4 linked regions of the Homo sapiens genome follow. The protein of the gene in region 1 interacts with the protein of each later gene in a pairwise test. Each region holds a gene or a part of one and is shown in the gene's direction. Other genes may lie near its edges. The genes, in order: MEGF10, TAOK2, ARHGAP32 and RACGAP1.

The links.
Region 2: the proteins of MEGF10 (region 1) and TAOK2 interact in a two-hybrid assay, tested with the Homo sapiens proteins (one large-scale study listed by IntAct).
Region 3: the proteins of MEGF10 (region 1) and ARHGAP32 interact in a two-hybrid assay, tested with the Homo sapiens proteins (one large-scale study listed by IntAct).
Region 4: the proteins of MEGF10 (region 1) and RACGAP1 interact in a two-hybrid assay, tested with the Homo sapiens proteins (one large-scale study listed by IntAct).

The regions. Positions count from the first base shown.
Region 1 is NC_000005.10:127,442,643-127,450,906, forward strand, and holds part of MEGF10 (multiple epidermal growth factor-like domains protein 10 isoform a precursor), read left to right. Parts: intron 1-355; coding exon 356-484; intron 485-2,814; coding exon 2,815-3,051; intron 3,052-4,914; coding exon 4,915-5,042; intron 5,043-6,456; coding exon 6,457-6,580; intron 6,581-8,264. UniProt on the Homo sapiens protein: Membrane receptor involved in phagocytosis by macrophages and astrocytes of apoptotic cells. Receptor for C1q, an eat-me signal, that binds phosphatidylserine expressed on the surface of apoptotic cells. Cooperates with ABCA1 within the process of engulfment.
Region 2 is NC_000016.10:29,980,626-29,987,902, forward strand, and holds part of TAOK2 (serine/threonine-protein kinase TAO2), read left to right. Parts: intron 1-1,035; coding exon 1,036-1,129; intron 1,130-1,233; coding exon 1,234-1,315; intron 1,316-2,108; coding exon 2,109-2,276; intron 2,277-2,425; coding exon of another isoform or gene 2,426-2,446; coding exon 2,447-2,707; intron 2,708-2,877; coding exon 2,878-3,039; intron 3,040-4,587; coding exon 4,588-4,953; intron 4,954-5,032; coding exon 5,033-5,236; intron 5,237-5,639; coding exon 5,640-7,277. UniProt on the Homo sapiens protein: Serine/threonine-protein kinase involved in different processes such as membrane blebbing and apoptotic bodies formation DNA damage response and MAPK14/p38 MAPK stress-activated MAPK cascade.
Region 3 is NC_000011.10:129,179,665-129,187,928, reverse strand, and holds part of ARHGAP32 (rho GTPase-activating protein 32), read left to right. Parts: intron 1-8,264. UniProt on the Homo sapiens protein: GTPase-activating protein (GAP) promoting GTP hydrolysis on RHOA, CDC42 and RAC1 small GTPases. May be involved in the differentiation of neuronal cells during the formation of neurite extensions.
Region 4 is NC_000012.12:49,999,681-50,007,944, reverse strand, and holds part of RACGAP1 (rac GTPase-activating protein 1), read left to right. Parts: intron 1-1,308; coding exon 1,309-1,511; intron 1,512-2,552; coding exon 2,553-2,689; intron 2,690-3,640; coding exon 3,641-3,710; intron 3,711-5,644; coding exon 5,645-5,698; intron 5,699-6,692; coding exon 6,693-6,773; intron 6,774-8,211; coding exon 8,212-8,264.

The DNA.
Region 1 (8,264 bases):
CAGTTTTGCCTGGTGGACTTGTATCAAATTGCCCTTAGTGATTATCTTCATCTGTTCCATGGGAATTCCACAGACTCTCCATATACACATCATAGAGGTAAGTATGTAGCAGCTGAAAGTGTCAGGAGCTCTAATGTTGAGCAGCCCTGTCTCTAGCCCTGTGCAGTCTGGACTGTGAGTGCCACCATGATTCCAGGAATGCTGTCCAGTTCTGGGACACTCTTGGGGGTACAAGTCAGCCTCAATAGGAATCCCCTGAAAGGACTCAGCTCTAGATGTGCAGGGCTTGCAGTCAGAGACAGCCTTGCTCCAAATTCCCAAGGTTGGAAAGCTACATTTGACTTTCCTTCTCTAGAGTGCCCTTCAGGAACATATGGCTATGGCTGTCGCCAGATATGTGATTGTCTGAACAACTCCACCTGCGACCACATCACTGGGACCTGTTACTGCAGCCCCGGATGGAAGGGAGCGAGATGTGATCAAGGTAAATATACTAGCTAATGTTTGTAGCACTGCAGTATTGTGTGAACACCATGTACCAGGCAATGTGAAGTATTTTCACTTATGTTATCCAGCAGAATCTTCACCACAACTCTAAATGGCATAATTGGTTACTTATTTAATTGCCAGATGAATGCCTTATTGTTGCTGTCCTGCAGATAAAGAAACAAAAGCTTAGAGAGGCTGAGTAATTTTCCCAAAGTCACATAGCTAATACTAGAATATGTCACAGCTTTTGTGCCAGATTTTTGTTATTCCAAAACTCATGAACTTTCTACTGGGTCTATGATTTTTTTTCAGCTTTATTGAGGTGTAATTGATACACAAAAAACACACCTATTTAATGTGTACAATTTAATAAAATCTCGACTATCTATATACCTATGAAACCATCACCATAATAAATGAAATATCCATCACCATGTGTTTCCTCATGCCCCTCCCTACTTCTACCACCCCTTAAGCCCCAGGTAATCACTCATCTCTTTTCTGTCAGTATAGATTAGTTTTCATTTTCTAGAATTTTATATAAATGAAATCATACTGTACTCTTTTGGGTCTGGCTTTGTTTACTCAGCATAATTATTTTGAAATGGAACCATGTTGTAGCACATATCAACAATTCAGTTCTTTTCATTGCTGAATACTATTCCATTGTATGGATATACTATAATTTGTTTACCTGTTCATGTGCTGATGGACAGGTGGATTGTTTCCAGTTTGGGGCTATTACAGATAAAGCTGCTATGAACAAGAGTGAATCCAGTTTTTGCATGGACATGTGCTTTCATTTCTCTTGGGTAAATACCTAGGAGTAGAATAATTGGGGTATATAGTAGACATATGTTTAACTTTTTGTAAAACTTGTGCCCCTGGTTTTCAATTGGGGTGTATGTCATAACGACCTGGGAATAGTTGTCAGGTACATGGTCCTATTTGGGAAATTCCGATTCCAGGGTTGGGGACTTTGAGAAAGTGCTTCTGATGGTTCTGAAGCATGCCCTCCAGAGAGCCACAGCTCTTACTGCATGTGGTACTCCCTGGTAGGCAATAAGCAGTTGGGCTATAAAAGGCTTTAGAAAATTGATACACTGTTGTAGATGGAGTAATCTTAAACTGCAGACCATGTAAATATTTACAACATTTAATTTCTTTGGTAAAATGACTTTTACATGCTTATGATTTACATTTGACTGTCATAACAATAGAATGTGATCTTTCATTATCACGTCATAATTACAAATACTCTGTAATCTCACTACATTATCCTTGGTGGTCTGTGTTTCAGGGCAGATTGTTTTGTAAAAAGGTCCTTCAGCATTTAGAATCATAAAATCATAGGAACATTTACTTGAGCTGGAAGCAGTGACATGGAGGCCTCTTTTCTCATTTATAGATGATAAAACTGCAGCCTGAAAGCTTAAGTGAAAGTTCAGAATATCTAGGTCAATTTTTTTAGATGCCAGATTTCTTGAATCTCAACCCATGCCTTTAGCGTTATCACTTGACGGACCATAAGGAAGAACTATGTAATGCCCAATTTTGAATTTAATGAGTAAGGTATTAGGGTAATGCTATCAGGTATTATCAGGACAAATCTTTCTGTCATGGAAAATAACTTTGCACAGAACAATATCTTCTGAGGTAAAAGACCCATTGAAATTAGCAAAAGGTAGATCCTGTTCTTAGACTAGATTTATAATGGTGTTATGCTTGCTTGGAAGGAAAATTACTCTTAGAAATGCTAAGGATAGACATAAAATTTGGTTAAGCAGTTGGGACATTTAGCATTTAACTCTGCATAAGCTCAGTATTGAATAATAAATAAAGCAAAATAAAAATTAGATAAATTGTTACCCCAAATTAATTGCCAGTCTAAGTATTTAATCGGAAATATATAAGAAGCTCTCAAATCCTACTGTTGAATCTCTTTGGGTTCAGAAAATCCTGTCTCTTTCTTTATATTTTTTTAGGGACAGGGTCTTGCTATGTTGGCCAGGCTGGTCTCTAACTGCTAGGCTAGATCAGTTCTCCCGCCTCAGTCTCCTGAGTAGCTGGAACTCCGGGCACGCATCACTGTGCCCAGCTTCTGTCTCTTTTTGAGGCTTACAGCAGCCTTTCTCTGGGCATGGATAGGCCGACAACATCTGACAATGAGGAATGTTTGCTTTTTCTTCCTGCTCTGTTTCCAAATTAATGTTTTATGAACTGAAAATATGCAGGCATTAGCACAGAAGGAGGTTTTTGTAAGTAGAGATCAAACGTTTATCCAGCACATTGTCATCCTTTCTCAAGTCTCTCTTCTTTTTCTAGCTGGTGTTATCATAGTTGGAAATCTGAACAGCTTAAGCCGAACCAGTACTGCTCTCCCTGCTGATTCCTACCAGATCGGGGCCATTGCAGGCATCATCATTCTTGTCCTAGTTGTTCTCTTCCTACTGGCATTGTTCATTATTTATAGACACAAGCAGAAGGGAAAGGAATCAAGCATGCCAGCAGTTACCTACACCCCTGCTATGAGGGTCGTCAATGCAGATTATACCATTTCAGGTAAGAGCAGAGGCAGGAGAGGCATTTTGCTTCTTGAAAAGTTAAATTTCATTCGGGTTCTTTAAAACTGGGTGTTTGGCTGTGCTGTCCATTGTTTCTGTCAATTCTCATTGAGAGAATTCTATGTTTGGAAAAGGTATACATTGCTAGAGATGAGTTTTTTATTTCAACAATAGTAAATTGTCATTCTGTGGTTTGCTATAAGGGTTTTAAAATTGAGCTCATTGTGTTTGTGGTTTAGATTTAGGGAATTTCAATCCATAAGGAGCTTTGTATCCAGCCTCAAGCTTTTGTCATATGTGAGGGGGGTGAGGAGGAAGAGAGGATGATAAGTTTACCAAGGTCATGGATCAGATTAGGGACCAGTTCTCCTGTCTCTGAATGAGGGTACTTTCTATGTGCTTCCCAGCCTCTCCCTAGGCCTACCCGAATCGTTAACTGAAGGGAACAAAGTTATATCAGAAACAGCTTTTTGGTATTAGCAAGAACCAAGGCAGCCCTTTAAGAAAACTCTTGATTTTTTCTGTTCTGTCACAATGCCTCATAAAAGGAAAAATAAAATTATAATCAATCATCAGTAGAAGCAACCATTTACATGGAGGAATTTAAAAGTTTAAAATCTTTATTACTTTTTGGGTGATTATTGAAGGCCTTCTGGTTGGTTACATGTTTAAAACTACAAAATTCCGTGGAAATATGAGAAGTAGCTGATTTACATAGTAGTGCATTTTCAGTGCAGAATTATTGTGTCAAGAACTCAAGTGTTTAAAAAAAGGAAAGTTGCAGAGTAGCTTCAAATGATACCTTCCCAGCTGTACCAGCCCCAAAGCAAAGAGCAGTTATCTGTGGATACTGTGAACAAAAGTTCTCTGAAAAGGAATTTGGGGGAAAGAGATTTTATTCCAGTGAACGGTTTGCAAACCCAGGAGTTGCAGCCAGTGTAAAATGAAAGTGCAGTTCAGAGAACAAAGGGAAGGCTTGGGTTTTATAGCAAAAGTCCCCACCCAGCTTCCAATCAGGCCCTTTTAGGAAAGTGAAGGATTGAAACTGGTTTAATTCTAATTGATCAGTGCAGCTGAGTTCTGGTTGGTTGACACAGCGGAACCCTGATCCTTTGATAAAGCTAAGCCCTGATTAGCTAAGGCAGGTAAGCTCTGATTGGTTGGTTCAGCTGAGCTCTGAAAGACCCAAAGATAAAAAGCTGGGTTTTCAGGGAACTCAGAGTACAGGTGTGATCCTTAGTCAGCAAAGGCCTGCTTGACTCGATTTTAAATTTAGGCCTAGGCAGCCACTCCTATGGATCTTAAATAATTGGTTCTTTCAGTTTCACATTTGTTCACAAGCTTTCATACTTTTCCAAGGAGGCAGTTAGGAAGGTAGAGGCCTGTTGCTTCTAGAAGCTTTGCTGAGTAGGCTGGGCAGGAGGAGATTCTGCCCAGCTTGTGATATGGAAGGAGTCCGGACATTTGTTCAGTTATTTATTTATTTGTTTTTTTATTTAGAGATGGAGTCTCGCTCTGTCACCAGACTGGAGTGCAGTGGTGCGATCTCGGCTCACTGTAACCTCTACCTCCGGGGTTCAAGCGATTCTTCTGCCTCAGCCTCCCGAGTAGCTGGGACTACAGGCGCATGCTACCGTGCCCGGCTAATTTTTTTTGTACTTTTAGTAGAGATGGGGTTTTACTGTGTTAGCCAGGATGGTCTCGATCTCCTGACCTCGTCATCTGCCCGCCTTGGCCTCCCAAAGTGCTGGGATTACAGGCGTGAGCCACCTCGCTGGGCCTGTTTTGTTATTTTGATTCCCTTTTTTCACACACATTTATGGGAGCCTGCTGCCTTAACCATTTCCTTCCCTTCTTGCAGGAACCCTTCCTCACAGCAATGGTGGAAACGCTAATAGCCACTACTTCACCAATCCCAGTTACCACACGCTCACCCAGTGTGCCACATCCCCTCACGTCAACAACAGGGACAGGATGACTGTCACGAAGGTGAGAGGAATTGGTTCAAGTCTTTGGAAGTGGGCTGGGGAGAGAGGAAGGGAACCAGCATTTATTGAGGGCCGCTGTTCACCAGAGGCTGTTCTAGGTACTTTACATATATTATCTAATTTATTCCTCTAAACAGTCCTCTGAGTGTGCTTTGGGAATCTCAAGTTTACTGATGAAAACCTGAGTAGTAGGGAGTTTAAGTTACTTCCAGACATAGCTGCCCGATAATGAGTGAGGCAGCTGCTGTGTGAGTCAAAGTCTCTCTGTCTCTACAATCTGTACTGTTTCCATTACACCGCTTTAGAAAAACGTTTCTAATTTTACATGAGATTTTAAAATAATGACTCATAATGACATTAACAAAAACATAAAGACCTATAGCAGAATCAGCCGTGGGCAAAATCTCCAAGTGTGTCTCTTCTGACCGCCCGTCCTCCAGTACCCGTTCCTGGCCACCTGTGCTTTAGTAACAACAACAGTAATAGGCACTGATTTGGGTTGAACCACATGAAATTGCTATTTTTGTAGGTCAACAGTGGTCACATAGCAACAACCTAATATTATGTGCCAAGCATTTCTAATCACTTAAAAATATAAACTCATTTAATCTTCACACCAGTCCTATAAATCAAGAGTGATTATTATGCCGATTTTACAGATGAGGAAACTGAGTCACAGAGAGGTTGGAGACAGAGTGTCTAGAACCCAGAGCTGCTACTCCAATAGCACCCAACTCACCCCAGGTCTTCCCCACAATGCTCTGAAGTCTCAAACATTTCTTTCTTCCAGTCATACCCAAATTATATTTCTAATCTCTGTTGTCTAATTCCAGTGCTCTATTAGAAAAAAAATCAAGCTAATTAAGTTAATCCAGTTGTAATTTAATTAATGCAGCTATAGATTTTAATTATAGTGCTTCATGGTTAAATATCACTCCACATACCCCAGAGACTTTCACATTCATCAATTTATTCTCATACAAATTCAGGGAAGGAGGCAAAGCAGATAATCTTATCCTCATGTTTACGCCTAGGATAACTGCTAAGAGTCACCTGTGATTCACACAAACATACAATTTTTGATGGAAGAACTTAGACCAAGAGTTCTTTTTTTTTTTTTTTTTCCAAATCAAAGTTACATGTGTATAAATCCAAATAAGGTCTAATTGGCACAGGATGACAGAGTGAAATGAAGATCTTGAGGTGGTGGAGGGAGTAGCTAGGACTGAAGGACATGAACTCCTGCCAGCTTGCAAGTCCCACCAGGTTACAAGCAGTCACCTCGGCCCCTGAGCTCAGGTCACTCTAAGGACTGGTCCTCAATATGTGCCCTGGACTTTTCCCCAGGTCCATAACGCTGTGCTGTGCCGCATTGTATTTTGTTTTTAATCTTTCGTTGTTTATATTTTTAACAGTCAAAAAACAATCAACTGTTTGTGAATCTTAAAAATGTGAACCCTGGGAAGAGAGGCCCTGTGGGGGACTGCACTGGGACATTGCCGGCTGACTGGAAACATGGCGGCTACCTCAACGAGCTCGGTGAGTTCTCCCAACGCACGTCCCCAGAAGCACCTTGACCTGTCAGTCCCTGAAACAGTCACGGATCTCTGTTTGTGCCAAGGTGTTCTATTGAAAACTTGCATCAAAAAGCACAATAGCAGAATTATGCCTAACACCTGTACAGGGCTATCTACTGTCCTAAGGGCTTTATCTATTCAACAAACATTTATTGAGTTCCTACTATGTGCCAGGAATTGATCAAAAGAGATTGGGATCTCTGCCTGCTCGTAGCTTACATTCTTGCTCTATGCCTGTTAACTTAATTCTCACAAGTACTCTAATAGGTGGGTACTATTGTTATCACCATCTGCATGTTACAGTTGAGAAACTGAGTCATAACAAGGTTATGTTACTTGCACAGGACCTCATCGCCTGTTAAATGTTAGAGCTAGTATTGGACCCTGTCAGCTTGGCTCACAGCTGTGTGCTCTTCCTTGTTCTCTTTTGATATAGGGTATCTGTACTTGAGATCCCCTTCCCTTTCAGGTGAGGAATCAGAGATACCAACAGGAATACAGTGGATCAGTGGTTCGGGCAACTTTTTGAAATTAGGACTCCTTTGCATTCTTAAAATTTATTGAGGACCCAAAAGAGCTTCTGTTGATAGGGGCTATATCTATTTATATTTACCATACTAAATGAAATTTAATATGTAAATAAAAACTGGAAAAAATAGAATGTTAATTTATTTAAATTAATAATAATCACATTTCATGGTAACATAAATTGTGTTTTTATTAAAAAAAACTACATTTTCCAAAACCCTTCAAAATTAGCGAGAAGAGCAATGCTATTTTACATTTTTATAAAAAAATCTCTTTAATGTCCAGCTTAATAGAAGATAGCTGGATTATCATGTCTGCTTTTACGTTCAGTTGGTTTTGATCTCATACTTTATGTAGCTTCTGAAAAACTCCACTGTACACTTGAAAGAGAATTAGAGTGAAAACGGCAAATATTGTTGTTGTATTGTTATGGAAATAGTTTTGCAGCTGGGCACAATGGCACAGGCCTATAGCCCCAGCTACTTGGGAGCCTGAGGCAGGAGGATTGCTTGAGCCCAGGAGTTTGAGTCTGATCTGGATGACATAGCGAGACTCACCTCTTAAAATATATATGTGTATATATAGTTTTGATCTCATAGGCCTCCTGAAAAGGGGGCAGGAATGCTTGGTCCATACTTAAAGAACTTCTGTGATATACCATTAATTATGCAGTGCAGTTTCCAAGCCTGTAACCCATATTTTCAGACAGGAGTTTGATGATGTAGTAACTTACAGGTGTGCAGTGTCTTACGGATAGCAAATCCTTTCACGTACATTTATTTGGAGGTAGGTGCCAGAAATCCCAGTTAAATTTGAATTTCAGATAGATAAGCAACACATTTTTTTGTATAAACATATCACAGATATTACATGGGATGTACACTAAAGATTATTTTTTGTTTCTTTTAAATTTTAATATAACTGACCTTTGTGTATTTTCATTTGCTAATGTTTTGTTTTGTTTTGTTTTGTTTTTGTTTTTGTTTTTGAGACAGAGTCTCGCTCTGTCGTCTAGGCTGTAGTGCAGTGGCGCGATCTCGGCTCACTGCAAGATCTGCCTTCTGGATTCAAGTGATTCTCCTGCCTTAGCCTCCCAAGCAGCTGGGATTACAGATGTG
Region 2 (7,277 bases), on another chromosome or scaffold:
CCCTTCTCCTCCATCTTCACAGTCTCCATTTACCATTAGATGCCAGGCCCAGACAGTTGATGAAAAATGTAAGAAACGGACCCAAGTATAAGAAAAAGCTAGATCTGTCCATTTTATTTCTAGTTTTTGGAAGAGATGTGGATACAGAGAAATATTACTCTACTATTGAAAAAAATATATATCAGTCTGATTATAAATGTCAACTCATACTAAGTCAATATCAGGGAAGCAGTGTGGAGAAGGATGTGGCAAACTGGAGATTGCTGTTTCCATAGAAAGAGGGCAGCTAATGCTTATCTCCAGACCATTGTTATGCAGTAATGTAGACTCCATTTCACCAGATTTAATTCTTAAGGAGAAACTGGAAACTTGTATTATTATTTGATTATTACTTTTGGCAGTTAATTTTAAAAATCACCGTTTAGGCCAAAACAACATGACATTTGTCTGGGCTACAAGGGACTCTTAGCGACTCTTAGCTTGCACTTACCTTTCTAATCTCAGGGCTTTTTACAAAGCCCTTCTCTGAATTCCCTGAAGATATGCTAGCTTGAAGGCTCACTGCATACTCTCAACTTCCCAGCCACTTCCCTGTTTCCCTCTTATACCAGTTAATACTTTGATGTTATTTTTTCAGTCCTATTTAATCTTTTAGACTGGAGGTTCCTTGAGGGTGGGGCCTAATTCTTGTTTTTATCTTCCCCATAGCAATTATCAAGTTATCTGCTCCCTTTGGCACCTAAGAAATATTAGTTGGGGTGATAACTGAATGGCTGTCCTTCTGCCTTCGTTACTGCTTTTGTGGATGTTATTTTCTTTGACCCCTATTCCACCCGTGTGCAGTGGAGAGGATGGGTGTTGTATTTTACAGAGGAAGGAATTAACTGAGACGCAACAGGATGATGGGAACTTCTCAAGGTCATGTGGCAAGGAAGTCAAGGAATTGGGGTTTGAACCCAAGTCGTCTCAGTTCCATTCCATTGTCCTCTACCCCCTGCCACCTCTCACCTTCTTCCCTTTCACCTTTTTCTGTAGCTGAACGGAAACCACCGCTCTTTAACATGAATGCGATGAGTGCCTTATACCACATTGCACAGAACGAATCCCCCGTGCTCCAGTCAGGACACTGGTGAGGACTGAGATTCCGAATCTGGGCCCAGGCGTTAGGCCATGGGGTATGGATGCCTGACTCATGCCTTCCCCACCCCTCTCCCACCCTCCTGTGACTTTCAGGTCTGAGTACTTCCGGAATTTTGTCGACTCCTGTCTTCAGAAAATCCCTCAAGACAGACCAACCTCAGAGGTTCTCCTGAAGGTGAGGGCCTGCTGGCCTAGCATTCTCCTGGAACTGTAGCTTGTTACAGCCACAAGAACCCCCAGGGAAATTAGTGGTTCCCAGTTCCTCCTCCACCAAGAGCTTCGTTGATGAATTCCCACCCCATCCCCAATGCCTAGTGGACTCTGTGTTTTACAAGATTTTGTCTACCAGACTGCCTTAATTTATTAAGTAATAAACTGTTTTCCCTTCTTTTATTAATCAAAGATTTATATAATTGCCAGCCAGAGCTTCTGGTCAGCATGTGATAACCAGGGTTGCCCCACTGATCTGATGTAATGCAAGCCAAAAGCCTGTGTAGCCTTATCATGGGTAAATGTATGATTTCCCTTAGGTGTTTTTTGAATTATCAAAAATGGAGGGGCCCCATTCCCTTCACAGACCCATGGGGGCCTGAGGAGCCGTAGTTGGAAACTTCAGATTATGTAGTTGGACCCACTTGTTTTATAATTGTAGGATACTGTATGAAGCCCAGAGGGGCCTCATGACATGTCCAAGGTCACATAGCCCTTTAGTAGAGGAGCTGGACGAGAATCCAGTTCTCCTGACTGTCCCTGCCTGTCAGCCATGCTTAGAGGAAGAAGAGTCTGTCTGGGGAGTAGGTACTGGGTGGTACAGAAAATTGTGAGAGAAGGGCTTGGGATAAGGCCAGCATCAACCCGTGGTGGGCGTGGGCCCCAGAAGAGTGCCTCAGGCCTGAGGGAATGCCAAGGGCTGTGGGTTGTGGGGGGAAGGGGAGTTGGCAGCAGACCTCAGTGCCCTCTTCCCCCAGCACCGCTTTGTGCTCCGGGAGCGGCCACCCACAGTCATCATGGACCTGATCCAGAGGACCAAGGATGCCGTGCGGGAGCTGGACAACCTGCAGTACCGCAAGATGAAGAAGATCCTGTTCCAAGAGGCACCCAACGGCCCTGGTGCCGAGGCCCCAGAGGAGGAAGAGGTGACCCAGCTTGCCCTAACACCCCTCTTTATACCCCATGTGTGCCTGCCCCCTGCAGTTGCTTGGCCCCTTCCCCAGCCCTACTCACACCACCATCTTCCCATGCTACCTCCATGCATATGCCCCAGGGCTTCCCCTTCCCTGTCCAGCAGCCTACGCCCTGTTCGCAGGAGGCCGAGCCCTACATGCACCGGGCCGGGACTCTGACCAGCCTCGAGAGTAGCCACTCAGTGCCCAGCATGTCCATCAGCGCCTCCAGCCAGAGCAGCTCCGTCAACAGCCTAGCAGATGCCTCAGACAACGAGGAAGAGGAGGAGGAGGAGGAGGAAGAGGAGGAGGAGGAAGAAGGCCCTGAAGCCCGGGAGATGGCCATGATGCAGGAGGGGGAGCACACAGTCACCTCTCACAGCTCCATTATCCACCGGCTGCCGGTACACAGCTCACCCTTGGGGGACCCGAGCCACCTGCTCTAGAACTGCCTGGGTCTTCGCCCTCCTTCCCTAAGTGCAGCACTCCTCTGAGTCTGATTGGCTGTCCTCAGGTAGCTCTCTTTGGACCCAGTGGCCTCTGAGCCTTGGGTGTTCCTTCTATCTCCCTCTAGGGCTCTGACAACCTATATGATGACCCCTACCAGCCAGAGATAACCCCCAGCCCTCTCCAGCCGCCTGCAGCCCCAGCTCCCACTTCCACCACCTCTTCCGCCCGCCGCCGGGCCTACTGCCGTAACCGAGACCACTTTGCCACCATCCGAACCGCCTCCCTGGTGAGTGTAGCCATCCTCACTCAGCCTGCTCGCTGTCTGTTTTTTAAGTCTTTTTAAGTCTAGAAATGATTTCCTCCCTGTGGCATGGGATTGAGTCTGGATTCTACCCTCATTTTCTGTTGCTGGCTCCTGCCTGCTCCCCTTAACCCTCCTGCTTCCCTCCTCTTCCCAGTGGACTGTTTTGGTCATATGGCCCAATCTGGGTGTTTCTAGCTTGGCAAACTCTTACTCCGTTTTTGTGGCCTGACTTAACTGACATCTCCTGGGTTGCCTTCCCAGGCTCCTCTGGTGAGTCAGATGCTTCACAGTTGTGTGCTGGGGAAGCCCAGTGCTGGGGGAGCCCTGTGCCTGTGGAGCCCTGTGCTGGGGGTGTCCAGTGCTGGGGAGCCCTGTGCCGGGGGTGCCCTGTGCTTGGGTGGTCCTGAACAGCATCATGATAGGTTTGCCAGATTCTGTGCCCCAGAGGGCAGGGATGGTGTTCAGATATCTGTCTCATGCCAGCAGTTAGCTCTCAGGCTTACACACAGGCCTGTGTTAACCCTCCCAGCCCCCCTGGGAGGGGAAGGGTAAGATCCCATTGGAGAAATGAGGCACCTGTGGCTCAGAGGGGCCACTTGCCCCAGTGCCTTTGGTGGCTCTCTGCTCCTGTAAGCAGGCCCTTAGTCCTCTCCTAAAATCAACTCATGGCAGTCTTTCTCAGTTCACAGGAAAAAGTGTTTAGGCTTTTCATAAAACATAGTTTTTCATCTATGTTTTTAGATCACGTTCCTGCTGAGCTGCATTTGAGCGTCAACAATCCCCTTAGAGGCCACTGATTAAGTCTAGTATGTTCTTATGGCCTCTGCTTGGTGCTGGTTGTGTTCCAACAATTCTTCAGATCCCATGGTGTTGTGCGGTACTGTGCTGAGAGGTCTTGACTGCCAGGGGCTTGGCTGCCGGGACTAGTTTGAGAGCCACTCATAGAGTCAATTGAGAATGAGACCTGAGATCAGACTTTGGATGAAGGTGTCCAAGCCCAGTGTTCTTGTTATTCCAGCATCTTGTGGCCCCGATCCCACCTCAATACCTGGGGAGTGATAGGCCGACCATGTTTGCTGAAGGGGAAGGAAGCCAACACTTATTAGATAGAGTCCGAACTTACCCCACAGCCCCTATGAGGAGGTATTATTTCCCCATTTAACAGATGAGGGAACTGGTGCTTTGAGAAGTTAACTTACTTGAGATCACATGCTTGGTAAGTGGCAAAGCTGGGATTTGATCCCAGGTATGTCTGACTCACTGTTTCAAATTAGTATGGATTGTTCCTACTTTTGTGCCAGGCCCTGTGCTCGCCACCTTTTATCATTCGGCCACACCAACTTGTGATGTAGATAATATCACCATTATCCAGTTGAGGAAACAGGCTAGAGTGGCCGTGTGTGAGGAAGGTGTTAAATGAGAATGAAACCCATGAGTTGAAAACCCATGCTCTTCCCCACGGAAGACCCCTTGTGTTAATTAACTAGGGGCCAGGCTGAGCCCCAGCTCTCACCCTCTCTCCTTCCCCAGGTCAGCCGTCAGATCCAGGAGCATGAGCAGGACTCTGCGCTGCGGGAGCAGCTGAGCGGCTATAAGCGGATGCGACGACAGCACCAGAAGCAGCTGCTGGCCCTGGAGTCACGGCTGAGGGGTGAACGGGAGGAGCACAGTGCACGGCTGCAGCGGGAGCTTGAGGCGCAGCGGGCTGGCTTTGGGGCAGAGGCAGAAAAGCTGGCCCGGCGGCACCAGGCCATAGGTGAGAAGGAGGCACGAGCTGCCCAGGCCGAGGAGCGGAAGTTCCAGCAGCACATCCTTGGGCAGCAGAAGAAGGAGCTGGCTGCCCTGCTGGAGGCACAGAAGCGGACCTACAAACTTCGCAAGGAACAGCTGAAGGAGGTGAGCTAGGGCTGCTTGGGGGCGGAGCCGATGGCGAGCCAGGTGGGTCCTGACCCTGCTTCCCTCTGCACTCGCCCAGGAGCTCCAGGAGAACCCCAGCACTCCCAAGCGGGAGAAGGCCGAGTGGCTGCTGCGGCAGAAGGAGCAGCTCCAGCAGTGCCAGGCGGAGGAGGAAGCAGGGCTGCTGCGGCGGCAGCGCCAGTACTTTGAGCTGCAGTGTCGCCAGTACAAGCGCAAGATGTTGCTGGCTCGGCACAGCCTGGACCAGGACCTGCTGCGGGAGGTAGGCATCCCAATCTCTGTTCCCCTCCCGCTCACTCGTGGATCCCAGGGACCCACCCTTTTCCATTTTCCTCATTCTTGTCTTCTTTCTCCTTGGCCCTCGAGTGTTACAGTTCAGCTTTGCTTCAGTGCCCCTTTTACTTCTCATCCCCAACAGACCCTGCCAGAATTTCCTTAGGCCTCTTTTCCCAGGCCAGGGAGGAGCTTGCCTCCCCTACACCCTCATCTCCTGCCATCCCCAGCTCCCTCTGCCAAGGAGCCCTGGCCCCTCACTTCCTTGATACTGACCAGGCCCTGGGCCCTGTGTTTCTTCCGCCATCCCCAGCTCCCTCTGCCAAGGAGCCCTGGCCTCTCACTTCCTTGATACTGACCAGGCCCCGGGCCCTGCATTTCTTCTGCCTCAGGACCTGAACAAGAAGCAGACCCAGAAGGACTTGGAGTGTGCACTGCTGCTTCGGCAGCACGAGGCCACGCGGGAGCTGGAGCTGCGGCAGCTCCAGGCCGTGCAGCGCACGCGGGCTGAGCTCACCCGCCTGCAGCACCAGACGGAGCTGGGCAACCAGCTGGAGTACAACAAGCGGCGTGAGCAAGAGTTGCGGCAGAAGCATGCGGCCCAGGTTCGCCAGCAGCCCAAGAGCCTCAAAGTACGTGCAGGCCAGCGCCCCCCGGGCCTTCCACTCCCCATTCCTGGGGCTCTGGGCCCACCCAACACAGGCACCCCTATAGAACAGCAGCCCTGCTCACCTGGCCAGGAGGCAGTCCTGGACCAAAGAATGCTTGGCGAGGAGGAGGAAGCAGTTGGAGAGAGAAGGATTCTGGGAAAGGAAGGGGCCACTTTGGAGCCCAAGCAGCAGAGGATTCTGGGGGAAGAATCAGGAGCCCCTAGTCCCAGTCCACAAAAACATGGGAGCCTGGTTGATGAGGAAGTTTGGGGTCTGCCTGAGGAGATAGAGGAGCTTAGGGTGCCCTCCCTTGTACCCCAGGAGAGGAGCATTGTTGGCCAGGAGGAGGCTGGGACATGGAGCTTGTGGGGGAAGGAGGATGAGAGTCTTCTGGATGAGGAGTTTGAGCTTGGCTGGGTCCAGGGCCCAGCACTGACTCCCGTCCCTGAGGAGGAGGAAGAAGAGGAAGAGGGGGCTCCGATTGGGACCCCTAGGGATCCTGGAGATGGTTGTCCTTCCCCCGACATCCCTCCTGAACCCCCTCCAACACACCTGAGGCCCTGCCCTGCCAGCCAGCTCCCTGGACTCCTGTCCCATGGCCTCCTGGCCGGCCTCTCCTTTGCAGTGGGGTCCTCCTCTGGCCTCCTGCCCCTCCTGCTGCTGCTGCTGCTTCCATTGCTGGCAGCCCAGGGTGGGGGTGGCCTGCAGGCAGCGCTGCTGGCCCTTGAGGTGGGGCTGGTGGGTCTGGGGGCCTCCTACCTGCTCCTTTGTACAGCCCTGCACCTGCCCTCCAGTCTTTTCCTACTCCTGGCCCAGGGTACCGCACTGGGGGCCGTCCTGGGCCTGAGCTGGCGCCGAGGCCTCATGGGTGTTCCCCTGGGCCTTGGAGCTGCCTGGCTCTTAGCTTGGCCAGGCCTAGCTCTACCTCTGGTGGCTATGGCAGCGGGGGGCAGATGGGTGCGGCAGCAGGGCCCCCGGGTGCGCCGGGGCATATCTCGACTCTGGTTGCGGGTTCTGCTGCGCCTGTCACCCATGGCCTTCCGGGCCCTGCAGGGCTGTGGGGCTGTGGGGGACCGGGGTCTGTTTGCACTGTACCCCAAAACCAACAAGGATGGCTTCCGCAGCCGCCTGCCCGTCCCTGGGCCCCGGCGGCGTAATCCCCGCACCACCCAACACCCATTAGCTCTGTTGGCAAGGGTCTGGGTCCTGTGCAAGGGCTGGAACTGGCGTCTGGCACGGGCCAGCCAGGGTTTAGCATCCCACTTGCCCCCGTGGGCCATCCACACACTGGCCAGCTGGGGCCTGCTTCGGGGTGAACGGCCCACCCGAATCCCCCGGCTACTACCACGCAGCCAGCGCCAGCTAGGGCCCCCTGCCTCC
Region 3 (8,264 bases), on another chromosome or scaffold:
CAAAACAAAAAAACCCAATTAACTGTATGTCCATAAATACCATATCACACCCAGGCCCATTTTATACTGTGTGGCTTTTCAAAGGCACCACATCTTTAATAACCTATTACTTATGATGTCAAAAAAGATGTATATTTTGCCCAAAAAGCTACAACTTATATTGTTTTGTAACCTTGAAGAAACATCTGGGATTTAGTTTAGCCCCTAAAATATTATTTTAAAAAATTATTTTTAATTTTAGGGGGTTCATAGTGGGTATATATTTTTATGGGGTACATGAGATGTTTTGATATAGGCACACAATGTGTAATAATCATATCATGGAAGATGGGGTAACCATCCCCTCATGATGGGATATCCATCCCCTCAAGCATTTACCCTTTGTTTTATAAACAATCCAATTATACTCTTTTAATTATTTTTCAGTGTACAATTAAATTATTATTGACTATAGTCACCCTATTGTGCTATCAAATACTAGGCCTTATTCATTTATTCTAACTACTTTTTGGACCCATTAACTATCCCCACCAGCCTCCCACTATGCCCCCACCACCCTTCCCAGCCTCTGGTAACCATCCTTCTACTCTCTGTGTCCATGAGTTTAATTGTTTTGATTTTTAGATCACACAAATAAGTGAGAACATGTGATGTTTGTCTTTCCGTGCCTGGCTTATTTCACTTAACATAATGACCTCTAGCTCCAACCATGTTGTTGCAAATGACTAAATCTCATTATTTTTTATGACTGAATAGTATTCCATTGGGTATAAGTACCACATTTTCTTTATCCATTCATCCATTGATGGACACTTAGGTTGCTTTCAGATCTTGGCTATTGTGAACAGTGCTGCAACAAATATGGGAGTGCAGATACCTCTTCAGTAGACTGATTTCCTTTCATTTGGGTATATGTCCAACAGTGGGATGGCTAGATCATATGGTAGCTCTATTTTTAGTTTTTTTGAGGAACTTCCAAACTTTTCTTCATAGTAGTTGCCTAATTTACATTCCTGCCAACAATGTGTGAGGGTTCCCATTTCTCCACATTGTTGCCGGCATTTGTTATTGCCTTTCTTTTGGATATAAGCCATTTTAACTGGGGTGAGATGATCTCTCACTGTAGTTTTGATTTGCATTTCTCTGATGATCAGTGATGTTGAGCACTTTTTCCTACGCTTGTTTGCCATTTGTTGCCGTCTTTTGAGAAATGCCTGTTCAAATCTTTTGCCCATTTTTAAATCGGATTATTACATTTTTTCCTATAGAGTTGTTTGGGCTCCTTATATATTCTGGTAATTAATCCCTTTTTGCAAATATTTTCTCCCTTGCTGTGGGTTGTCTCTTCACTTTGTTGATTGTTTTCTTTGCTGTGTAGAAGCTTCTAAAATATTCTTTTAACAGTAAGTATAACATTCACCCAACATACTCTCATCAGTGAATTTAATAGTAATCAGCAAAGTCTGATATGAACATCCCTTAATCTCAGAACATTTTAGGCAGTAATGGAGTCTAGCCATTAGGCTGTCTTCATAATCTGTGAAATGAATCTGTCTTAACCGTGAGGCATGCCAGTACAAGACTTTCTTGGTATTTTAGTAATTAAGCCCTTTGGGATGGAGTCCAAGGTGGGCCTTTCTTGTATCTATCTGTATGAGTATTTTGATGTTCAAGAAAGGCCCTAGAGTACACAAACGATATAGACCTGTATAAAAGTTCCTGGTTATTAGGTTGTTTAATTGAAGTTAAAAAGTTTAAACCCAAACCTAATTTTTCTAACTCTTGCATTTCACTTTGGCACTGAACTCTCTTAAATAGTCAATAGGACTTTCAAAAATAAATTGAAATCCCTGAAACATTTAAAGCTCTATTTATAAATTAGTTAATTTTCTTTTTTTTTAAATTAAATATGTCAAGTGACTAGCTTAGCAAGATGATATTCAGAGCAGGCAAAACCTTCCCAGATACTTAATTTTGGAAGTTGCGCTATACTTTTCTTTACATTAATGATTAGTTTCCATTTCCATGTTCTCATAATCATACATGTATTTTCTCTATTTGAAAATAAAATGATTTCTTTCACCCAGGTTTTCTCTCTCTCTTTCTGTGTATGTATGTTTGTGTTTTAAATCATGGTTCTCTCTTCTCCTCTACTTCTCTTCCTTATAAAATAAGATCTTTAGGAAACTTTAACTTCCTCCTTCTCTCAGTCTCATACTTCTAGATGAGACTTTTGAAACTCTTTTATTCACCCATTCTGCCTCCGTCAGTTTAATGTTTTTTGCTTTTCATTCAGATTTAATTATTTGTGTCATTTTTTTATTATTATTATACTTTAAGTTTTAGGGTACATGTGCACAACGTGCAGGTTTGTTACATATGTATACATGTGCCATGTTGGTGTGCTACACCCAGTAACTCGTCATTTACATTAGGTATATCTCCTAATGCTATCCCTCTCCTCTCCCCTCACCCCACAACAGTCCCTGGTGTGTGATGTTCCCCTTCCTGTGTCCAAGTGTTCTCATTGTTCAATTCCCACCTATGAGTAAGAACATGTGGTGTTTGGTTTTTTGTCCTTGTGATAGTTTGCTGAGAATGATAGTTTCCAGCTTCATCCATGTCCCTACAAAGGACATGACCTCATCATTTTTTATGGCTGCATAGTATTCCGTGGTGTATATGTGCCACATTTTCTTAATCCAGTATATCATTGTTGGACATTTGGGTTGGTTCCAAGTCTTTGCTATTGTGAATAATGCCACAATAAACATACGTGTGCATGTGTCTTTATAGCAGCATGATTTATAATCCTTTGGGTATCTACCCAGTAATGGGATGGCTGGGTCAAATGGTATTTCTAGTTCTAGATCCCTGAGGAATTGCCACACCTACTTCCACAGTGGTTGAACTAGTTTACAGTCCCACCAACAGTGTGTCATTGTTTAGTGTTTATGTTGCTTCTTCTCTGTATCACATTCTATCTTAATGTATCAGTTTTGGATCATTTGTATTTGCCTGATACGTTCTTAAGTATTTTTGTTCAGTTAAGTTCTCTGGGTGATATTCTCTGATTTCTTGTATAAGCTCAAATGCCAATCTGTTTTTTTCTTTTCCTTTGTAGGTAACATGTTCTTTTTGCCAGACTACTTGTTAAGAGTTTCTTTTTTATTGTTATGTATATTTTGTTACCCGTTCTTTAGTTTGGAGCTTAGTGAGTTCTTTATTTTGGAACTTAGTGACTTTCAGTCTACAGAGTCAAACCTTTGTGTTAGGGAAGAAATTTTTTTGTTTCCTATTATTGCCTTTGCCTCTATTAAGTCCCCTTAATCTTTTATTTTATGATATATTTCTTTTTACATTTTACTTTGTGAATTGAAGTTTTTTTGTACTTGTTCTCTTAGCTAATTTCATCTTCTTTTTTAATTGTTCAAATTCAATTTGAGTAGATAAATTATTTTTAAGGGTTCTTCACGTATAGATACATACACACAAGGTATTTTTATAATAAATTTAGGTTATTTTCTTTCTTTTTGAGCTTTGGAGCTTTATTCATTCAGTGTACATGTTCTGTTTTATTCTGACTGTTCAGAACCTATCTTTTAGCTGCTAAGCAAAGTATCTGCGCTTCTTTGCCCTTTCCCCTGCTGTGTTTTCTTCAGTAGCCCCCATGATGCATATGGCTCTGCCTTGCTTGTCTTAGGTGCACACACCCACATTAGGAGCCCTAGTCCTTCTGGTCAGTTGTTAAATTACTTTACAGGGTAATTTTCCAGTTTTTGTTAGTACCCTGGGGGCAAGCATCTCTCTTGTTGTGGAAAGGGGTGGGGTATAGCCTTTGAACTTCTGTTTTTCTCTTTAGGTCAGTATGATACCACTTGCTTTTAAGTTTTTCAGTCTTTTAGTCTTTCAGAAGTGTATCAAAGTCTGATCTCTGGCCTTCTGGTGCCATTCATACCATTCTGTTAAGGATTTATTTTTTCCTATTTAACTTAATGATTTTTGAGACACTTGGAGAAGGAGAGATTTGCTTCCTCACATATATGCAGTCTAGGATTGGAAGTCCACTGGGAAGTTTTTTTCATAGGTTTTGAGAGGAAACTTTTCTGCAGGGAACATTCACTGAGGCAGAATCGTGGTGCCTTTCATGCAATTTGGTGGGTCTTAGGAGTGTGAATGGCTGCTTCAGTGTCTTCTTCAGCTGGCAGGTGGGGTCTTCCAGAAAAAAATAGTTTACCACATCAGGAATGATGAAGATATGGTCAAGCATTCCACTTTTCCTATCTGCAAAACAGGGCTTAAAATAGTATATCAAACAATAACTAGTTAGAAGATACAATGGAAGAAAAAGTGCCACTTTCAGGAGCAACAAAGATGAGATACCAGAAATAAACTTAACAACAAACTCTAAAACCTACATGATAAAAATGTAAAACATCATTGAAGAACATAAAAGAAGTTTGGAACAATTGAAGAATATGTCTTCTTCATAACTGGAAATACACAGCACCATAAAGATGTTAGTTTAAGGTAATTTATAAATTTAATGTGATGATAAGAATCCTTTTTAAAAAACTAAATAAATTGATCTTGGCTAAATAATTTAACCAAGAAACTTTGTAGGAAAAAGAAAAAGAACAAGGGTAGTGGATATAGAGGACTTTTGCAACTAGATGTTGTATTGTGAAGTCTTAGTCTCAGTAATTAAAACCCATTGGTTGTGGGACATGAAGAGAAGTATTATGGGGTAGAATGGAAATCCTAGAAAATATACCCACGTTCATAGGAATATTTAGGTATGGTAAAGATGGCTTCTCAAAAGCTAATGGAGATGATATGTACTATTCAGTAAATAGTTTTGGAGAAACTGAATATTCACCTGTGGAAGTAAAGAAAATAGGAATCCTACCTCATACCAAGGATGAATTACAAATGATCAAAGATTTAAATGTACTAAATGAAAACATAAAAAATTTTTTAAGGCCGGGTGCAGTGACTCATGTCTGTAATCCCAGCATTTTGGGAGGCTAAAGTGGCAGGATCCCTTGAGGCCAGGAGTTTGAAACCAGCCTAGTCAACATAGCAAGACCCCGTCACTACAAAAGAAAAATAAAAAACTTAGCCTGGCATGGTGGTACCTGCCTGTAGTCCCAGGTACTCAGGAGACTGAAGTGGGAGGATCTCTTGAGCCCAGGAGTTTGAGGCTATAGTAAGCTACGATTACACCACCGCCCTCCAGCCCTGGAAATAGAGCGAGACCCTGTCTCCAGAAAAAAAAAAAAGGTAATAGAAAACATAGAGAATTAACACAATTTTTTTTTATAATAGGAAGGCATTTTGAACTATGATTTAAAGCAGTAAAAGAAAAAGCCATGAAGGAAAGGGTTGAGAAATGAGGCTACATAAAACAAAAAACATCTACATTACATAAAATATCTACATTACAATATATAAAACATCTGCATTACAAAAAACAAAGTAAGCAAGGACATATGACGACCTGGGAAAAATACCTGAAACTCATATTACAGATGAAGGATTAATCTCCTTGATATACAAAGAACTAAAAATGGTTAAGAAAAAGTCCAACAACCCAATAGAAAAATGGGCTAATATATAAAAATATTTTTTTTACTGTAGAAAATTTGTTTTTCAGATATATTTGTACATATATAGAATGACATATAAATGCACAAACTTATTGTAGCATTGTTTGTAATAGCAGTAGATTGGAAAGAATTTATTCAAGTACTCATCAGTAGGGGATTAGTTAAATAAATTAAGGAATAGCTACACAGGGGAACATTATATAGTTGTAAAAACAGCAAAGAAGTTCTATGTATTGATATGGAAAGTCTCCAGGAAAAGTTAGAGGAAAACAAGGTATACAACAATGTGTAAACCTACTAAGAAGCAGCATATTTACACATTGCTTTTATACTCTGTGTGGCTGTATTTTTTCATACATATGAATAATTTATGTGTGAATATATGCAGCTATAGTAATAAAGTTTAGAAGACTCTATTGGAAATTGATTACCTTGGCAGGTAGAGAATTTAATGGGTTGGAATTGGGCAGATTGGAGACAGGGATGGGAATAATTTTTCTTTATATGCCTTTTTGATTTGTGTATGGTTCAATTGTAATACATATGAAGAATTATAGTATATAAGACATTTTGAGTGGGAAGTGACCAAAACTGAATTCCAACTGGCTTCAGCAAACCTCTGTTCCATAGTCACCACCAATGTAACTGTCCTCATCGGTGTTAGAGGGTTAGTTTCTTTATTTTTTAGGAATTCTGGGAATATTAGATTTATGTAAGTGATTATTAGTCCACATAGGCTAACCAGAACAGAGTTCCTGTATTTTAAGAGGCTTTACAATTTAATTTATTAATATCCTTTGAAAAGTAGGAAAATTTATTGCACCCTATGATAAGCAGATAATGACTTTTATCAGTTCCAGGCACACAGAACGCTGGTAGTCTCAGATTTATATCATCAGCCGTGGGTAAAATGAATAGAGAACACCAAACTGAGCACTTCGGACATATCTCAAAGAGCTGTTCTCTCCAGTGGAATTGAGGCATATTTGTACACAGACAGACAAAAATTGACTAACAAACCAAATTCTCTGTTGCTAATAGAGAGTAGATATCAAATGGTCTGACCATAAAATGGACTTCCAGCCATTGTTGCCACCAGTGGATAGTAACTGGCGACAACTGTTGCAGAGCCAGAACCAAATTTGGCGAAGAATAAGAAATAAACAAAAACCGATCGGAAGAATAGAAAGAGAAAGATATCCTGCTTGGAATTTATTCCAGGGATGAAGAAAAGATATTCCTGGGAGTGAACAGTCCCTGAGGTGCAGTTCCTGGGTAATATGCTATATTTGTCTTGAGAAGGAAATCCGCTTGGACTTCTCTGTGGAACTTCAACATTGTCAAGTGTAATTTTTCATAAGTTATGAGCAAGAATCTCATACAAATAAAGTGAATATGTGACAGATATTTACATAATTTCTTAGTGAGGGAAACAGCAAGATGATAAGGCTGGTTCCCATAATCTTTCAATTTGGGGGAAGTAGTTTTCTCTCCTATTTTTCATTTTCATTGAATGCATTCAGGTTTAAGTCTGAAGATGTTTTACAGAAAACTCTGGTAAAAAATACAGCAGTAGGTTACTTAGGTATTATGGTTGGCAGCCCTTAACTACAGCTTTTTTGTTAGATATGAAACTACAATCAAACACTTTAAGCATAAAATTTGTCCATAATTTTAAAAGCATAGAACAAGAGAGTCAAATAAATGGATACTAAATTTCTTATTGAGTTGGTTCATCATTGCATGGCCCATAATGTATATATAAATATAATTTTTATACCTCTTAAACTGTGTAACATTTACCAATAAACTTTTACACTTTGAGGTATAACACATATAATAAAGTCTACAAATCATAAATGTACAGCTTGATAAATTTATACAAAATATATACCCAGATAATCACAACCCAATCAAGGTATAGATTATTTCTAGCACACACAAAACCTTTGTCCCTTCTAGTCAGTACTTCTCCCAAAGGTAACTTATTCTGACTTTGTCACAATAGATTAATTTAGCCTGTTCTTGAACTTAATGCCAATAGAATTATATAGCATGTACTCTAATGTCTGACTTCTGTTGCACAACATTTATGAGATTCATCTACTTTTTGCAAATTCCTTTTTATTTATGAGTAGTAGTCTATTGTATGAAAAATATTAAAACTAGTATTGTTGATTTATTTTTTCTCTTAATAAATAATTGTATATAGTGGTATATGTAAATACACGATTTTTTTAATATATTGACCATGTAAACCAGTGATCTTGCTAATGTATTAATTCTAAATTGCTTATAGAGTCTTTTAGATTGTTTATTTACATGTTATGTCTTCAAATAAAGAAAAATGTTTTCTTTTCCAATTTTTTTTTATTATTATACTTTAAGTTTTAGGGTACATGTGCACAATGTGCAGGTTAGTTACATACGTATACACGTGCCATGCTGGTGCACTGCACCCACTAACTCGTCATCTAGCATTAGGTATATCTCCCAATGCTATCCCTCCCCCGTCCCCCCACCCCACAACAGTCCCCAGAGTGTGATGTTCCCCTTCCTATGTCCATGTGTTCTCATTGTTCAGTTCCCACCTATGAGTGAGAATGTGCGGTGTTTGGTTTTTTGTTCTTGAGATAGTTTACTGAGAATGATGAT
Region 4 (8,264 bases), on another chromosome or scaffold:
CAAACATATATGTTTTTTTCTTTAAGCTAAAAAAAAAAACCCACAAAAAAGTAGTATGTTCCAGACTAACCCAGCATATTATTTCTTAAAACTATTTGAATTGTAATATTTTTTTAATTGTTGATATCCGCATTGTTTAAGATAACTAGGTCATAATAACCTATTTTGCTGAAATTTGTGGTTTGTAAAAACTAAAGTTTCCTTATTACTTGGTTTTTCTGGAACAAATTGGTATCCTGATTTGTAAGTTTGATATTTGGTCAAATGATTAAAATTGTTTAAAAAGGACTATGTATTGTTTCTATGCTTTTAGGTTAAATTCATAGGGGAAAAGTGCCCTTACTACCTAAGAATCTGCTAGCTGTGTGTGAATTTGGCCTAGTTTCAGTTTTAACTGGGTTAGTTTGACCAGCAGCAGATGTACACCTTGAGACCTTCTTCCTTGATGTTGGTGGAGAGTGATCCTTAGAGATAGACGGAGGTTAACTAGAAAATTGTAAGGCACTTTTGCAAATACATTGCAGAACAGCTTTGCCAATAGCAGGAGATAAGAATGAATGCCAACAGGGTTATCTTCTTCCTTTGAGATGCTGCCTTGGAAGTGATGTTCTCTTTGCAGACATTTGAAGAGACTTCACATTCTGCTATCAGGGATGTTCCAAAAGCTAGTTTGATCTTCTCTTCCTGTTTTTTTTTTTTTCAACTGGAATGTTTACATACCCTTCAGGGCAGTGTTAAACAGCAAAAGCAAATTGGCTTTTTACTTTCAAATCAATATTTGTATAATTATATAGCCAAATGGAATTGTAGGTCTAGACATCTGTAATATTAATCTACATCTACTGGAGCATATTACAGCAGTTACATTTGAATTTGCTGTTTAACATCTCTCTGGTGCAGCAATGCGTGACTGTAAAGGAAACTGTTTTTGTTTTATAGCTGTAACTGTCCTGGTGCATGACAGCTGCCCCAAAGGTATCCCCCTTTGATTGCCTTCTGTTCAGGAGCTTTCAGTGTTAGTGTTACATCTGGAGCCAGGTGACTAATGAGTTACATATTCCATAGCAGATGCCACTGGCTAAGCCAAAAGTAAGTGGCCTATTGAATAGGAATTGCTACCCACAAAGTTCTCATCAGAGTGACAAACATATCCAGGATCTGCTCCTAGTTATTTTCAGCTGGATTTGCCCATAGTTCAGCTGGTTCCTTAATTATGAATTTCAAATAAAGCTAACCGTAGGACTCATTTATTAGAGCAGTTATACTCTGTTTGGTGCTTGAATTATTAAAGATTCCCCCTTTCCTCAGAATTTATCCAGTTGGCGAAGGACTTTGAGGATTTCCGTAAAAAGTGGCAGAGGACTGACCATGAGCTGGGGAAATACAAGGATCTTTTGATGAAAGCAGAGACTGAGCGAAGTGCTCTGGATGTTAAGCTGAAGCATGCACGTAATCAGGTGGATGTAGAGATCAAACGGAGACAGAGAGCTGAGGCTGACTGCGAAAAGCTGGTGTGTATTGTTTTCCGTGCTAGAACAGTGATGATGCAGGAGGGGGAAGGCATTGTCTGACAGTTTCCACTTGCCAAATATACCTAGTTTCTTCTTCCACATTAAAGAACTGAAAGTGACCTGTTCTTTAACAGCTTGCCCATGATTAGAGCTGAAATTGCAGACTAGGAATCTTGTTCTTCATAATTTGAAATTTAAATGTTTTTGTCACTTAGACTTGAAACTTACTTAACAGACAGATTTCAAATGAGAACTTAAAGAATTAGAGGAAAAGGGAGGGAGGGAGATCCTAACGTACTTGATCTGTCACAAGTTATTGGCCATCCTTCATTGTTTATTTTAAGTGCTACCCGGAATATCCATCCTTACATGAGTAGCTGGTACTTTGTCATACATACAGGCAAGACAACTGTGACTCTTCTTTTCATCACCCCTCTCTAATTCAGGGTAAAAGGCTAGATGTATTCAACCAGTTGAGCAATGTGACTGACACAGAACACTATCATTTTGATGTGCCAGGATGGGTCATAATGCAAAGGAAAGCCTTTACTGGGAGGGACTAATCCATCTTGGTATACAGTGTTAGATGCCTCAGTAAACTCAAATTGTCTGGTTCCAGTGCATTATAGCTTTGTATCCATTTTAATGCATTTTGCTCCACTACTTTGAGAGGTGGGTGGCTGCTTTGATCCGTAGAAGCCAATATTTGTCCTGATAAAATGACACTAAAGTGTTTTTGCTATGTGAAATCTATTTTGGGACTCTCATTTTGCATTATTCTCCTCTTGGATTAGCAGGTTAATCCAAAAGTCTTGTAGCAGAAACTTCGCTGTTCTAGATGTAGTTCATTTTACCAGTCAGAAATCAGAGACACAATCTGGGTTTGATGTGAATTAATATGCTATTGGTGTAGCAGCCTTCCTGAAGGTCCATTTGCATAATGCTGCATTTTAATGTCTTCTGGTCTGCCTGTCCCATAAACTTGAGGTGAAGCTTTCTCCCCTGGCTAGTTATGATGTTTTACTTTGCTTTGGTCTGTAGGAACGACAGATTCAGCTGATTCGAGAGATGCTCATGTGTGACACATCTGGCAGCATTCAACTAAGCGAGGAGCAAAAATCAGCTCTGGCTTTTCTCAACAGAGGCCAACCATCCAGCAGCAATGCTGGGAACAAAAGGTGGAGGAACTGCATCTGTTGTTATCCTATCACAAGCAACACAGGCTGTCAGATATTCTTGTTATCTGAATTCTTAAATATACTTCTTCTAGAATGTGTGCTGAAAAAAGCAGAAAAAGATTTTGTGGGGAGAGTAGGTGGGGAATAAAGGCACAGGGATGTCCCTGTATATTTTATTTTATTTTATTTTTAAATCTTTCCTAAGGATGTTGTTTCACCATGGATACAATTTTGATGTTGGTGCTAAATTGCACATCAATAACTAATCCTGTGCATTGCTAAGAAACCCAAAGGTGAAAGTGGCAGTTCAGCAATACTTTCAGTGTTTACTCTCCAGAGAGCTCTTACAGCTCTTCTGGTTTAGAAAGGCCTCTGTGAGCCAAGACCAGACAATAATTTTGGTTCCACTGCACCACTGTTTAAAATAGTCTCAACCAGGCTTTGAATTTAACATCCCCAGTACAATATGTAGGGAAAGGTCAGCTATTTATTTTGTTGCCTGGTTGTTTTATGGGGAATCTTTATAACTAAGAAGATGTACAGGCTTAATTTCTTAAAAAGTCAGTGTTGGGTAATACTCTTGTTTGTAGAAACCAGCACAGTTGGGATCAAATTAAACTTCATTCCCTTGATTTTGTGAATTTGGAGTAGCCTGTAATACAAACTCGGTAGAGAATAGCACCCATAACCCTGACTAACTTTCAACTGCCCTTATAAGGTCTTTGCTGAAAAAGCAACTGTGTTGCACCTGTACTCATGCACACACACTCCTCCGTGGAAACCATACAAAGTAGCCTACCACAGGGTTTGAGATTGTAATTGTCTCTATAGTGAAGATTTTGCTATGAAATTAACTGATGTTACCTGACCAGTAGGACTTGTTCTGAATGTTGGTGAATTTTACATTCCACAGTCTACCATGTCTAACGTTGTATTGTTTCACTGATCTAGACTATCAACCATTGATGAATCTGGTTCCATTTTATCAGATATCAGCTTTGACAAGACTGATGAATCACTGGTAATAAACATTTGATCTCTGAGAATTACCTACTTTTCTTACCTCTGCTTCCCCAGGAATATCTCTCCTGTCTTCTCTTCTGAACATCCTATATTACTATTTTATTAGTTGATGTGTTATAGATTCTGAGCTAGCAATTTAAAATATAAATCCACATGAGCTATAAGAGGCTGGCTTATATATTAGTTTCTGAAGTGAGAATATATAATTCAGAATTTGGCATAAGTTGAGTTCATTTAATAGATCTCTGTGTGCCACATGTACTAACTGATTATATTTTGACTTATTAAAGCCCCAGCTAATAATAAAAATATTAGCAAGACTGTATGTCGTCAGGGTTTATTTGCTGCTCTTAAATAGACTTGTGCCTTATTTCTGAATTAGTTTGGTTCTTGGGGAAAGCATAGTCATACTTCACAATTAGAAGGAAACCAAGGTCCTGGGATTTCAGCCAGAAAAGTGTGATTAGAGTTTCTAGGCACTATATAATGCTTTCATCAACAATGGTTAACATGTTAAACTATTTGTTGCCCTGCTTTTATGGGGCGGCACACTTCTTTTAACTTACAGTGATGCTTCTGCATAAAAGGTCATCTCCTGATACAGTCTTTGATATAGTTCATTGATTTGTGCATCTTTTCTGTTACTAGCTGAAAACTAGCAAACAAAACAAATCAGGAAGTTTTTGGTGACTGGTTTTCTGGTATAGCAAAACAGGTGACAACTATTTGTTACATGGCTAGGAGTTTTCTGTTCAGATTCAGTGTTTGACCAGGGAAAATACGGCCATTTTATAGATAAAAATATTAGGCATCACCTTTCTCAAATAGGGAATGATATAGTGGAGGTCTGGAATATATAATAAAACTAGATCATATTATCAGTTGATTTTTGAGCTAGACCTATGATACGATATTTCTTGTAACTGAAGCTGAATCAAACAACCAGTAACTAAATTACTGGACCATGACTTGGGGAAGTTAAATTTATTTAGCTAAGCTATTATTTGCTGTATACCACTGTTTCTAGATACTGTTTTCAGGGATGATCAGGAGTAAGGAAATCACAGGTAACTACTAAAATGAATGCAAATAGTTAAAATAGGTGAATTGAAATGAGACCACAATAAAAGACAAATAGTTCTTCAGTGGTGGACACGTTTTAGGGCCTAAGTTCCTAAACTGTAGAACTTTTTTTTTTTTTTTTTTTTTGAGACAGAGTCTCACTCTGTCACCCAGGCTAGAATGCAGTGGCGCAATCTCAGCTCACTGCAAGCTCCGCCTCCCGGGTTTATGCCATTCTCCTGCCTCAGCCTCCAGAGTAGCTGGGACTGCAGGCGCCCGCCACCACGCCTGGCTAATTTTTTTGTATTTTTTTAGTAGAGACGGGGTTTCACCGTGTTAGCCAGGATGGTCTCGATATCCTGACCTCATGATCCGCCCACCTTGGCCTCTCAAAGTGCTGGGATTACAGGCATGAGCCATCGCCTGGCAACTGTGGAACTTGTGAAGTGGCAATATTATGCAGAGCATTTGATTAGACAGTGGCAATCCCTTGGGGGCAAGAATCACATCTAATACAATCAGTATAGTGCCTAACATTCTGTAAGTTCTAAAACTAATTACAAAAATAATCAGAAATAAAGGATCAGCCACTGGAAATATGGCAGAATTTGATTCTTTAACCTCTTCTTGCCTCTGTGGTATTGATTCCTGATTTTATTATAATAGCTTCAATTTTTCAAAGAAAGCACATTAACTTACTATAGCTCTATAGCTACAACACTTGAGACCTTCCCTTCTCTAACCCTCCCCGAATTGTACGTTAGGTAGCCTGACTGAAGAAGCCTTTAAAGTTCTCTGTAAATTTATTTGCACAGGGTTTAGGGATGGCCTAACCAAAAAAAGAAATTAATACAGTGTAATTGTCAACAGGATTGGGACTCTTCTTTGGTGAAGACTTTCAAACTGAAGAAGAGAGAAAAGAGGGTATGTATGATTTGTTTAGTCTTTTTTTAAAACAAAGTAATAATGGAGTTATTTTTGGAAATTTTGCCATGATACTGCATTCCTGTCATGTTGCTCTAGCCATTGTTAAGCACATACTACAGATGAATTCATGCTGTGGGGACAGTATTGATATTCTTTTTTTTTTTTTTTTTTCTTTTTTTTGAGACGGAGTTTTGCTCATTTCCCAGGCTGGAGTGCAATGGCGCGATCTCGGCTGAACGCAACGTCCGCCTCCCGGGTTCAAGCAATTCTCCTGCGTCGGCCTCCCAAGCAGCTGGGATACAGGTGCCTGCCACCATGCCTGGCTAATTTTTGTATTTTTAGTAGAAACGGGGTTTCACCATGTTGGCCAGGCTGGTCTTGAACTCCTGACCTCAGGTGATCCACCTGCCTCGGCCTCCCAAAGTGCTGGGATTACAGGCGTGAGCCACTGCTCCCAACCAGTACTGGTACTCTTTGAAGTAGTAACTTAGGACAGAATCCTGTCCATTTCACTGTTTAGGCTGCATTTCAATTCATTCATACAGTGGAAAAGGATAAACTTAAGTTTGTTTTGAATTGTCATATGAATTTTTACACAGAACTTTTGTGCTCTAATATAAGCTTCATATAATGGGATATATAGAGATCTATCTGTGTATGCTTGTTTAGGGTACTTAATGTGTTTCCAAGACTTCATGTCCTTAGTTAGGATTACAGCTGTACTTTTTCTGGTGGTGTCATCTAAATTTCTCCATAGCTTGCTCATTTTTTCTAGGGCACTGAGAGCATTTTTGTACAACATATTCTTTTGAAACAGCTTATTCTTCATGTGGAAATAGGCAAAGAGAGAGAGAGAGAGAACACATTGTTTGTTATTTACTGTAGCCCTAATCCCCAGGACCTGTATCCAAGTTGTTTGATGGAATAATTTTATCTTCTGTGCTTCAGATCTGCTTGGCATTAAAGTTACGGGTCTTTGTCTCCTTTCTAGCGCTCTACTAGCCGACAGTTTGTTGATGGTCCCCCTGGACCTGTAAAGAAAACTCGTTCCATTGGCTCTGCAGTAGACCAGGTAAGAATAGTCAGGCCAAGGTAACAGAGATTACTGGCCCCAAGCATTAAAACTTCTCTGAGTCAGCATTGCAGCATTGTTTTGAGAGACATGATGTTTAGTTAAAGTTTTTGTTTGTTTTTTGAGACAGAGTTTTGTTCTTGTAGCCCAGGCTGGAGTGCAATGGCACCATCTTGGCTCACTGTAACCTCCACCTTCCAGGTTCAAGTGATTCTCTTGTCTCAGCCTCCCACGTAGCTGGGATTACAGGCGCATGCCACCACGTCTGGCTAATTTTTGTATTTTTAGTAGAGACAGGGTTTCATCATATTGGTCAGGCTGGTCTCGAACTCCTGACCAGGTGATCTACCTGCCTCAGCCTCCCAAAGTGCTGGGATTACAGGCGTGAGCCTCCGTGCCTGGCCTTTGGTTAAAGTTTTTCTATGCAGTAGGATCCTTATCCCTATGAATGGAATTACTCTGATGTAGTAAACAACTGTCAGAGTGAGTCTTAGTTGCTTGAATATATACCCCCATGACCTATGTTTATCTTCTTAGGTACGAGATTTCTTTATTTTTACTTTTTAAAGTAGAGGGGGAGTCTCTCCTTGCTGCCCAGGATGACTCGAACTGCGGGGCTCAAGTGATCTTCCCACCTTGGCCTCCCAAAATGCTGGGATTGCAGGCATGAGCCACTGCACCCAGCCAAACATCAGATTTCAACATAAGAATGTTTCAGGTCAGGCGTGGTGGCTCACGCCTGTAATCCCTGCACTTTGGGAGGCCTAGGCAGGTGGATGATCACCTGAGGTCAGGAGTTCGAGACCAGCCTGGTCAACATGGCGAAATCCCGTCTCTACTAAAAATACAAAAATCAGTCGGCCAGGCGCGGTGGCTCACGCCTGTAATCCTAGCACTTTGGGAGGCTGAGGCGGGTGGATCACGAGGTCAGGAGATTGAGACCATCCTGGCTAACACAGTGAAACCCCATCTCTACTAAAAATACAAAAAATTAGCTGGGCATGGTGGCAGACGCCTGTAGTCCCAGCTACTCGGGAGGCTGAGGCAGGAGAATGGCGTGAACCCGGGAGGTGGAGCTTGCAGTCAGCCGATATTGGGCCACTGTACTCCAGCGTGGGCGACACAGCGAGACTCCGTCTCAAAAAAAAAAAAATCAGTCAGGTGTGGTGGCGCATGCTTGTAATCCCAGCTACTCAGAAGGCTGAGGCAGGAGAATGCCTTGAACCTGGGAGGCGGAGGTTGCAGTGAGCCGAGATCACGCCACTGTTCTCCAGCCTGGGCGGTAGAGTGAAAAACTCTGTCTCAAAAAAAAAGTATCAGACTGGGGTCTTAAGTCTTGACTAAGACTAAGGAATTTTTTACCTGCTCCAAAATACCCTATAGTGGAGGGTAAGTTAGATTCTTTGTTTGTCTTTCCTCATTACTACTTTTGTTGCAGGGGAATGAATCCATAGTTGCAAAAACTACAGTGACTGTTCCCAATGATGGCGG